2 separate regions of the Homo sapiens genome follow, and region 2 is linked to region 1. Evidence: fine-mapped QTL for protein levels in blood plasma. Region 1 holds a variant in brackets. A gene starts in the other region. All regions are shown on their reverse strands.

The links. PIP is the posterior inclusion probability: the model's chance that the variant is causal. The UK Biobank Pharma Proteomics Project read protein levels with antibody pairs (Olink). The fine-mapping took linkage between variants from a reference panel, not from the people measured, so its PIPs are less certain.
Region 2: it holds the start of PGLYRP2, and the variant in region 1 is fine-mapped to the plasma level of the PGLYRP2 protein (UK Biobank, PIP 0.94).

What each region holds. Positions count from the first base shown.
Region 1 is chr4:3,443,502-3,448,831 of GRCh38, reverse strand. HGFAC (HGF activator) reads right to left here. Exons shown (of 14, transcript NM_001528.4): 5 at 4,671-4,793; 6 at 4,390-4,521; 7 at 4,099-4,209; 8 at 3,839-4,013; 9 at 3,482-3,567; 10 at 2,538-2,790; 11 at 1,201-1,340; 12 at 797-937; 13 at 556-704. Among named protein-coding and RNA genes, the nearest start is that of HGFAC, 4.2 kb to the right of the region's middle. RefSeq lists a silencer at 5,285-5,330. The variant G/A (reference allele first, on the strand shown) is at 3,403.
Region 2 is chr19:15,477,297-15,482,658 of GRCh38, reverse strand. It overlaps PGLYRP2 (peptidoglycan recognition protein 2), which reads left to right and starts at 3,158. Exons shown (of 5, transcript NM_052890.4): 1 at 3,158-3,348. The coding sequence starts at 3,288.

The DNA.
Region 1 (5,330 bases):
ACTCTACCACTCCTGGGCTTTGTGGCCTTGGAAGAGTGAATTGACTGCCTGGGGCTCAGTCTCCCCAGCTATAAAATGGGGCATAAGAGAGCCGTCGCATGCCAGGGTTGCCGTGCCGCCTGAGCACACAGGCCTGCAGAGCCCAGGACGTGGTTGGGCTGTTGGGCTTATTGAAGGTTGAAGAACTTATTGAAGGTTGAAGAGCTGGCTTGAGAGAACTCGGGGCAAAGGGGCCTTTGGTGCCTAGTGTCACACGGAAAGCACTGCCTTGGGCTGGACAGCCAGGAACTGTCCGGGCTCTGTGGGACCCCAGGCCCCTCTCAGAGCCTGGGTCTCCCCTTCTGTGTGAGGAGGATGCCCTTCCGGCAGGGCTCTGGGTGGCCCTGGGGTGCTGGCCACCGACAGTAAGTGTGCTCCCTGCCCAGGGGTCCCTGGCTGGCCCTGCCAGGTTGGGGTGCCGCCAGGCTCTGGGCTCCCCAGGGGCAAGCATCTCGGAGACTCAGGACCAGCTGAGCCCCCACCAGTCGGGTCCTGGTGGGGCGGGCACCAGCTCACCTGGCAGGCGTCGGACTTGCAGTCGAAGTAGCCGGCACAGAGCATGTTGGGGCTGATGTCGGCGCCGTAGACCTCAGGGCTGCTGCACTTGTGGTCGGCGACCAGGGGGACCAGGGCCTCCCGCAGGGAGCTGGAGTAGCCGCTCACGTCTGTGGGACACAATGCCCTCAGCGTGACACCCACACTGTGGCTGGCCACTGTCCACCCTGGCGGGGCGCTGGGCGCCCCCCTCCCAACTCACTCTCATCCAAGTGGCCCCAGCCCGCAATCTGGCACTTGTGTCCTGCGGGGAAGGTGCTGCCGGGCTCGGGCAGGCAGATGGGCTGCACGAACTGCGAGCGTGTGGCACAGCGGTCCCCTTTCTTCTTCAGCCGGATCAGGACTGATCAGAAGAGTGGCCAGGGTCAGCCTGTGGTGTGCGGGCTGAACGGGAGGCTGTCGGGGCCCGTGGTGGAGGGAGGGTAGCCAGTGGGGTCCACAGGGCAGCCTGGGAGATCCAGAAGGGAGCGGTGCCCTGTCCTCCCTGCCCTGCCCCCAGCTTCCCCCGCACCACATGTCTGCCCAGCTCCTGCCCCTGTCTGGGCCTGGCCTGGGGAGCACAGGGCCCACCTGCCCAGAGTGCAGCCACGACACGCCGGAGCTCACCGAGGTCGTGGTCGCTGGGGTTGAACACCGAGTACAGGGTGTACGGGATGTACTTCTCGATGCCGAAGGTCTGCGTCACGTCCGTCGTGCGGTTGAAGAAGTGCTGGCCCAGCACCACGGAGACGCTGTCCCTGGGGGGGCTGTGCAAGGGGGGCTGGAGGCTGCATGGACCAGCCCTCCCCCAGCCACCGGGCTCACCTCTCCCCACCCCCTGTCAGGCCCACGGAGGCCAATGGTGTGGGACCCTGGTCCCGGGGAGGGGTCTGAGCAGGTGCCTGGGTGTGGGCTGTTGATACTGGGGAGACAGGGACCACCAAGCAGGGGCTATTGCCAGTCACCCCCAGATCCAGGCATGGGAGCTGAAGTGCGGTGCCATCCCTCCTGACAACACTGGTCACAAGCCCTGGGGGGAGTCTCAGGCCAAGCCCAGGCAGGATCGGCTGCAAGGCCGACCCGAGTGGGTGGAGACCTGGCCTGCTCAGGCCCTGCCCCAGCTTCCATCCACATTGTGGGGTCCCCAGATGCAGCCCTCACTCCTGCTGGGCACAGAGCCTGGGCCCCTGAGCCTGGCTCCCATCTGCTGTGTGGAGGTCGCTCCACCCTGCCTCGGCCTCCTGCCCTGGGCTCCATGTGGGGAACCCCATTTCTCCACACTGAGGAAGGCTCTGGCCCCATTTGCAGGCCCAGGAGCCGCCGGCTGCAGGTTCTGCAGGGCCACGCAGGACCCCACCCTGGGAGCTGTGGTCCTCGAAAGGCCGCCAGACCCTCGGCTGGCCGGACCCCTGCCCCTAATCACTGGGGTGCCCATCGAAGGTGGAAGGGCGTCTGGCCCAGGCTGCTCCGTCTCAGGGTCTCCCCACTCGAGGCCCGCCTCCCAGAGTGTGGGCCTGGGTGGCTGTGCGCCCCCACTGAGGGGAGCCGGCTGAGTGGGCTGGGCCTCAGTTTCCCTGGCTGTGCTTGGGCTCCTAGGGCTCTGACGCATTGTCACTGCGCTCCCTGGCTCCCTACTGAGAGCCAGGACTCTGGGAGGGGCGGGGCCTGCGGGGAGGACAGGACCTGGCCCACTGCACTCTCCGCAGGCGCTGGGTCCTCTGTGGAAATGCCACTGACCCCTGGCCTCCCTCAATAGGGACAGGGTTTCTGGAGTGTCCATGCATGCCCAGCTCAGGACTGAGCCCCAAGACCCAGAGGGGTCAGAGAGGGTTACCGGGGACCCCGGGAAGGGGTCAGCAGAGGCACCGGGATGGGGTCCGCAAGCGGGTGGGGACAGGCGCATAGTGACGCTGGATGGTGTGTGGGGCCTCAGGGCAGGTGACTGGGGCCCAGAGGAGGTGCACCTGTGGGAGAAGCAGTGGGCGGCCGACACCACCCAGCAGGTGTGGACCAGGCTCCCGGCGCAGAAGCTGTCCCCGATGTAGATGGCGGCCAGCCAGGGGTGCGAGCCGGGCAGCGAGGAGGAGCCGCCGATGATACGTGGCCGCAGGAACGTCCTCTTCTTGTGCCTCCTGCCGCAGGCCTGGCGCCCCGGGGAGGCTGGCTCAGGCAGGGTCGCCAGGAGATCCGGTGACAGTTGGACTCTGGTGAGGGATTCTGGGAGCAAAGGTCACCGGGTCACACCCCTGGGGTTCACAGGGCCAGCCCCCTTCCACACACAGGCCCTACCCGGCAGGAGGCGCTGCAGAGGGCCATGGCCGGACCCCCTGTCCACGCTGCTCAGGCCCTGGCGCCCACTCACCTCTGCCCTCAGTTTCCAAATCTGTAGAATGGGGTTTGATGCCCGATCCCGAGGCTCTGTGAGGGCCAGAGGGGCTGGACACACGGAGGCCTTTGTGGCCCCCTCAGCAGCCCGGAACCCCACAGCCAGCCCCAGCACAGTCAGAGACCCCCACATGAGAGCCCCGGGCTGGCCCCGCCGGGGTCCTAGGGAGCCGGGGGGCCTCTCCCCAGGGCAGGAAGCAGGTGGCCTCTGGGGGGCCTGCACGCTGCCCTCCCTGCACCTCCCTGAAAGGCTTCTGCGGCCATCCTGGGCATGGTCCAGGCTGGGCAGGTGCCACCCCGAGGCCGTCGCCTGGTGACCAGCCCCCTGCAGCGGGCTGCTTCCCCACTGTGACCCCAGTACCGACCCACTGCGTGACCTTGGACCAGCCTGATCCCGTGAGCTCCAGTTTCCCCATTTGTCAGAGATGCAGTAGCCAGGTGTGC[G/A]GAGGGGCTAGGAGGATCACGGGGAAAACTGCTGTGACCTCGGTGGGGCCCAAGGCAGCACCCCCCGCCAGCCGCGCACCGCAGGCCTCCAGGCGGCAGTACTCCCAGGAGAGCGCGCTGTCCTTCACCACGTAGCACCAGGGCCTCTCGTCATTGTCCGGATTCCTGCGGTGCATAAGTGGGGGCTGGCAGGGAGTCACACTGCCCCTCGAAGAGGGCATGGGGAGGGGGCATCGGAACCCCCAGCAGGGCGGTTCCCCGCACCTGGAGCAGTGGGAAGAGAGTGGCCCTCCCTCGGGCAGCCTCCCAGGCAGAGGTTCCGGGGCCTGTCTGGACGGAGCTGGCCCCGCCTGGGTCCTAGGGAGCCGGGGGGCCTCTCCCCAGGACAAATCCTGCCTGCCCCGCATGCGGCGGCCTGGAGCGGCGTGGTGCTGACCGGCAGTAGGCATGGGGGCCCAGGCCCAGCAGGGCCGCGGCGCCCACGGAGTCCACGTGCAGCTCCTGGTAGAGCAGATCGGAGTTCCAGGCCAGGCAGCTGAGGCCCGAGGCTGAGGTGCTGGCCACGCCACGGTACCCAGTGCCGTTCCCCAAGAAGCAGCGCTCATCAGGCTCTGCGGGCAGAGGGGCAGTGAGGCCGGCCCACGGTGGGTCCACCCGGCACTGCCCCAGGGCACCCCGGGGGGCTGACCCACTCACCGATGTTGCAGAGCCGTCCAGCGAAGCCTGGTGGGCAGGCACACACGGTGGTCCCGGTGGCCACGATCAGGTGGCAGGTGCCCCCGTTCAGGCAAGGGCTGCTCAGACAAGCTGGGGGCAGGGCCGAGGAGCTGGGCCAGGGGCCGCGCAGTGCCCCACGACAGCGGAGTCGGGGCCGGGGTCCACCCCTTGTCCCTTGTTTCTGGGTGACCTCAGGCCATTCCTCCCACTCGGGTGTGGACAGGGACACCCGTCAGGGGTCAGTGGCACGGCTCACACCCCGTGGCGCACCTGTATGTCGGGTGCCTTCGCACCAGGTCCGGCCCCCGAAGCACTCGCACTGTTCCACGTGGCCCTGGCGCACGCGGGCCCAGCGGTCGCCCCCCTCCAGGTACTCGTAGCGGGTCTCATCAAAGCATTTCTCTGAGGGGTGCACAGTAAGCCCTCACACCCTGCCACCTGCTGTCCCCGTGCAGGGCCCCTGCCCTGCACTCGGGAGCCACCTGTTCTCCCATCCTCCGGGGACTTGCTCCGGCCCCTGGACCCCTGCGGACCTCCGAGGCCCAGCTCACCTGTGCCGCAGTCCTTGCCGGTGAAGGCCCGGGGGCAGCTGCAGTGATAGGACTGGGGGTCCTGGGTATTGGAGCAGGAGCCTCCATTGAGGCAGGGGCCGGAGGCACAGGGATCCAGGGCAGCTGGGGACATGCGGGAGGGGGTGTGAGGGGCGGACTGGGAGGCTCAGGGTCCCTCTGTGACATTCTCTGCTTGCTAAGGCGTCCATCAGGCCCCAGTGAGGGGCTCTGAGAGCAAAGGGGCCCTCTCTACGCCCCTCGGGGTGCAAGGTCCCTGGGAGGGGCACAGACCTCCCCTTCCTCCCAGCGTCCCCCACTCAACACCTGGGCCACTGGCCCAGCTGTGCACGTGGCTTCCTGGAAGCCTGACACCCACACTGTCAGGCAGCAGACCCCTCCCATGTGTCCCAGGACCCATGTGAGCAGGGCGGCTGGCACCGCACCCCACAGACCCTGCCCACCTGTCCCCTGCCTGGGGCACGCCTGTGTGGCTGCAGGGCCCGGCCTCACCACCAGGCGGCGCCTTGGCCCCAGCGATGGCCGCGCAGCCACCATGAGACGCAGGTCCCACCTGGGAGAGGCTCTGGCCCTAAGTGGCACCCACCGGGGTTAATCCCAGAGCTCCTCTTCTGCTCCCCTCCAGCCAGGACCCCTGCCCGG
Region 2 (5,362 bases), not on the chromosome of region 1:
AAAGAAAGAAAGAAAGAAAGAAAGAAAGAAAGAAAGAAAGAAAGAAGGAAGGAAGGAAGGAAGGAAGGAAGGAAGGAAGGAAGGAAGGAAGGAAGAAAGAAAGAAAGAAAGAAAGAAAGGAAGAAAGAAAGAAAGAAAAAAGAAAGAAAGGAGGGAGGGAGGAAGGGGGGAGGGAGGGAAGGAAGGAAGGAAGGAGAAGGGAAGAAAGGAGAAGGAAGAGAAGGAAGAAAATATGGAAGAGGAAGTATATTTACTATTCATTAAGTAGAGAATCATCATAAAGGTCTTCATCCTCACCGTCTTCATGTTGAGTAGGCTGAGGAGGAGGAAGAGGAGGGGTCTTGCTGTCTCAGGGGTGGCAGAGGTGGAAGAGGAGGAAGGGGAGAGGAGAGGCAGGCACAGTCCATGTAATTTTTATTGAAACAAATCCAGATATAAGTTGACCCTCACAGGTCAAACCCATGTTGTTCAAGGGTCAACTGTACTCCGTATGACACTCTAGTGGTGGACATATGTCATTATACATTTGTCCAAACCCATAGAATGTACACCACCAAGAGCAAACCCTAATGGAAATGATGAACTTTGGGTGATAATGATGTGTCAGTGAAGGTTCATCGATTGTAACAGATATACCATTCTGGTGCTGGATAGTGATAATACGAGAGTCTGTGCATGTGTCAAGGCAGGGAGTAGAACTCTCTGTAACTTCTGCTCAATTTTGTCACGAACCTAAAACTGCTCTAGGCCAGGCATGGTGGCTCACGCCTGTAATCCCAGCACTTTGGGAAGCTAAGGCAGGAGGATCCCTTGAGTCCAGGAGATGAGACCAGCCTGGCCAACATAGCGAGACCCTCATCTCTATAAAAAATTAAAAATAGAGGCCGATGCGGGTGGATCACCTGAGGTCAGGAGTTCAAGACCAGCCTGGCCAACATGGTGAAACTACATCTGTACTAAAAGTACAAAAATCAGCCGGGAGTGGTGACGGGGACCTGTAATCCCAGCTACTCGGGAGGCTGAGGCAGGAGAATAGCTTGAACCTGGGAGGCAGAGGCTGCAGTGAGCCAAGATTGTGCCACTACACTGCAGCCTAGGCAACAGAGCGAGACTCTGTCTCAAAAAAAAAAAAAAAAAAAAAAAAAGCCTGTAATCCCAGCACTTTGAGAGGCCAAGACAGGTGGATCACCCGAGGTTGGGAGTTTGAGACCAGCCTGGCCAACATGCTGAAATCCCGTCTCTACTAAAAATACAAAAATTAACTGGAAGTGGTGGACGGGCACCTGTAATCTCAGCTCCTTGGGAGGCTGAGGCAGGAGAATCACTTGAACCTGGGAAGCAGGGCTGCAGTAAGCCAAGATTGCACCACTACACTCCAGCCTGGGTGACAGAGGGAGACCCTGCCTCAAAAAATAATAATAATAAAATAAAAAATAAAGCTGGGTGCAGTGGCTCACGCCTGTAATCCTAGCATTTCGGGAGGCCGAGGCAGGAGGATTGCTTGAGGCCAAGAGTTTAAGACCAACCTGGCCAGCATATCAAGACTCCATCTTTAAAAATAATAATAATAATAAAACTGTTCTAAAAAAGTCTTAAAATTATTTATCGGCCGGGCATGGTGGCTCACGCTTGTAATCCCAGCAATTTGGTAGGCCAAGTTGGGTGGATCACCTGAGTCAGGGGTTCAAGACCAGCCTGGCCTACGTGGCAAAACCCCGTCTCTACTAAAAATACAAAAATTAGCCAGGCATGGTGGCGCATGCCTGTAACCTGAGCTACTTGGTAGGCTGAGGCAGGGAGGCAGGAGAATTGCTTGAATCTGGGAGGTGGAGGTTGTAGTGAGCTGAGATCGTGCCATTGCACTCCAGCCTGGGTGACAGAGCGAGACTCCGTCTCAAAAAAAAAAAAAGTTATTGATGACTTAGATTTTCAACACTGCCTTAAATTTTGCGGCAAAGAGGATGCCTCAACCTAGTCCCTGCCTCAGCCCACAACCTTCATATGGTTCTACCAGGCAAAGCTCCTATCCCCAAATCCTGGGAAACGAGCTTGGAGGAGGACATTGTCTCTTACTCCCATGGGAAGTGTCCCCCATTCACTCTATCACTTAGCACCCTACATCCTGAGCTTCCACTATGTGCCCAGCTTTTTTCTGGGAGGTCCCCAGAAAGAGGACACCTGAGGAGGCCCCAGGGGTGGCCCCCAGGGGAATCCCAGGCCTGGCTCAGGCTGGACATTCCCAGGCCTGCCCTGGCTGAGTCTCCAGCTGGTGGGTCTCCTGGAAACTCCCCGGGCTGGTTTTGAGGTGGGAGCCCCACAGGGAAGCAATTTACATACACAACAGCCCAGTCATGTCAACCTGCCCCATCTGATGCCAGAATAAAGGGGAGATGGGTCCATTCTGCAGGTCTCAGTCATGGGCACCCGGAGAAGAGGAAGGACATTTCACTGTCAGCCCAGGTGAGTCCAGAAGCCAGCTCCTGGAACAATGCCAGGGTCCTGAACACTCAAGCTCAACCCCTGCTCTCAGCTACTGCTGGTGGCTTGAAATCAAGGGCTGGAACTGGATGAGAGGTGACAGCCCCTGGTCCCCATGGGCTCAGAGCAGGCCTCAGCAAACACTGTCCTCGGCCCCTGCACCCATGCTCTGCCTGAGCCTGAAGTGTTGGTTGCAAAAAAAAGCAGGAGGCAGTGCCAACTTCAGGCCTCAGCAAACACTGTCCTCAGCCCCCGCACCGATGCTGTGCCTGAGCCTGAAGTGTTGGTTGCAAAAAAAAGCAGAAGGCAGTGCCAACTTCAGGCCTCTGCTTCTCTCCTCTCCCTCAACACAGCCGGTCTTACCAGTACAGCAGGCGGCAGCTGAGAGTCCCCTCTGGTGGCCAGCAGCGGCTACAGAGCCGTCACTATGGGGAGGGACAGGACTTGAGGGGTTGCCTCGGTCCACCTCACTGGAGAATGGGCAGAGTTTATGGAGTCTGAACCACCTGGTCTCCAGGCCCCTCTGGGGATGGGCCTGGCTTACTGACCACTGACCTCAGCCTAGGAGGGACAGAAGAGACTGGGGGAGACCAGGATGCCCAGATGACCTTGACCCAGGGTACGCTGCCCCATGTCCCTGCTGCCTCCCGCCCACAGCTCTACGAGAGGCAGGTCTGTCATTCGCCGCTGGACTTTGACAGTGGTCAAAGGCTCTGCTCAGTTCTCTGTGCCTGTCTCCCTCCAGCACTGCCGAGGTTCTCTGCCGAGGCCAACCAGAAATACCCCTTGGAAGCTGGAATCCTGCAACAATGGCCCAGGGTGTCCTCTGGATCCTACTCGGATTGCTACTGTGGTCAGACCCAGGGACAGGTGAGTCAGGGGGCAGAGTCCTGGGACCAAACCTCTTGGCTCTGCAGAAGGCGTACTGCTGTCCCATCTATGTCTTGCCCTGCATGGAGTGAGGCTGGAGACTCAAGCTCTCAAAGAAGCTCCAGCATGGGGACATAGATATTCCCAGCTCCACAGAGTCAAGGCAAGGATAAGGGAAGGAATCTGGGGCCTGGAGAGCAAAAGTAGGGAAGGCTTCTTGGAGGAGGAGACATAAGAGCTAGGCTAGGAAGAAAGAGAAATGATTTGGGGGAGAAGCCAGAAAGGGCATTTTTTGCAGAGAAGAGCAAAGCTACACAGGTTAGGTGGTGGACTGGAGAAGAACCTAGATTCTAGACCAGGAGAGTGTGTCGAGTAAGACTTCCTGGATTCAAATTCTACTACTGGCCAGGCCTGTAATCCCAGCACTTTGGGAGATCAAGGCGGGCAGATCACTTGAGATCAGGAGATCGAGACCAGCCTGGCCAACATGGTGAAACCCCATCTCTACTAAAAATACCAAAAATTAGCCAGGCGTGGTGGCAGGCACCTGTAATCCCAGCTACCCAGGAGGCTGAGGCCAGAAAATTGCTTGAACTCAGGAGGTTGCAGTGAGCTGAGCACTACTGCACTCCAGCCTGGATGATAGAGCAAGACTCCGTCTCAAAAAAAAAAAAAAAAAACAAAGGCAAATCCTGCCTCTGCCACTTCCTTCCTGTGTGACCTTAGGCAGGTAACTTAACCTCTCTGTGCTTCAGATGCCTCATCTGTAAAGGGACACCATCTTAGTCCCTTTGTGCTTCTATATAGGCCAGGGTACCTGAAACTGAGTAAATTTGTAAAGAAGAGAAATTTACTTTCTTGCAGTTCTGCAGGCTAGGAAGTCCCAAATGCCAGTGCTTTGATCTTGGACTTCCCAGCCTCTAGAACTATGAGAAATAAATGTCTGTTCTTTTTTTTTGTTTTTTAGACAGAGTCTGACTCTGTCGCCCAGGCTGGAGTGCAGCAGCATGATCTCAGCTCACTGCAACCTCCACCTCCCGGGTTCAACAGATCCTCCTGCCTCAGCCCCCCAAGTAGCTGGGATTACAGGTGCCCGCCACCGCACCCGGCTAACTTTTGTATTTTTAGTAGAAACGGGGTTTCACCATGTTGGCCAGGCTGGTCTCAAACTCCTGACCTCAAGTGATCCGCCTGCCTCGGCCTCCCAAAGTGCTGGGATTACAGGCATGTGCCAGCACACCTGGCCAAATTTCTGTTTTTCATAAATTACCCAACCTCAGAGATCTGTTATAGCAGCACCAATGTACTAAGACAGGGGCTAAAAGGACCTACCTCACAAGAGTTGTGAAGACTAACTGCGTTAAATTATTAATATATAAGTCACCTAGACTAGTAGCTAGCACATAGTAAATGTTTACTGAAAGTTAGCTATTATTTGATAACCCATCTCTGAACCAGCTCTGAGCCTAACTTAGCATTTCTAGGTTTGCAGTTCAGCCACTGACATTTCCCCAACATGGCACAAGCCCATCCTGCTCTTCCCCCTGCCTCCCAGGCTATTTTATTTTATTTTATTTTATTTTAATTTAATTTTATTTTATTTATTTTATTTTATGATGGAGTCTCACTCTGTCACCCAGGCTGGAATGCAGTGGGGGGTTCTTGGCTCACTGCAACCTCCACCTCCTGGGTTCAAGCAGTTCTCCTGCCTCAGCCTCCTGAGTAGCTGGGGTTACAGGTGTGTGCCACCATGCCCAGCTAATTTTTGTATTTTTAGTAGTGACGGAGTCTCGCCATGTTGATCCGGCTGGTCCTGAGCTCCCGACCTCAGGTGATCCACCCGCCTCTGCCTCCTAAAGTGCTGGGATTACAGGCGTGAGCCACTGCGTCTGGCATTTTTTTTTTTTTTTTTTTTTTTGAGACAAAGTCTCACTCTGTCACCCAGGCTGGAGTGCAGTGGCGCAATCTCGGCTCACTGCAACCTCCACCTCCCATGTTCAAGTGATTCTCCCGT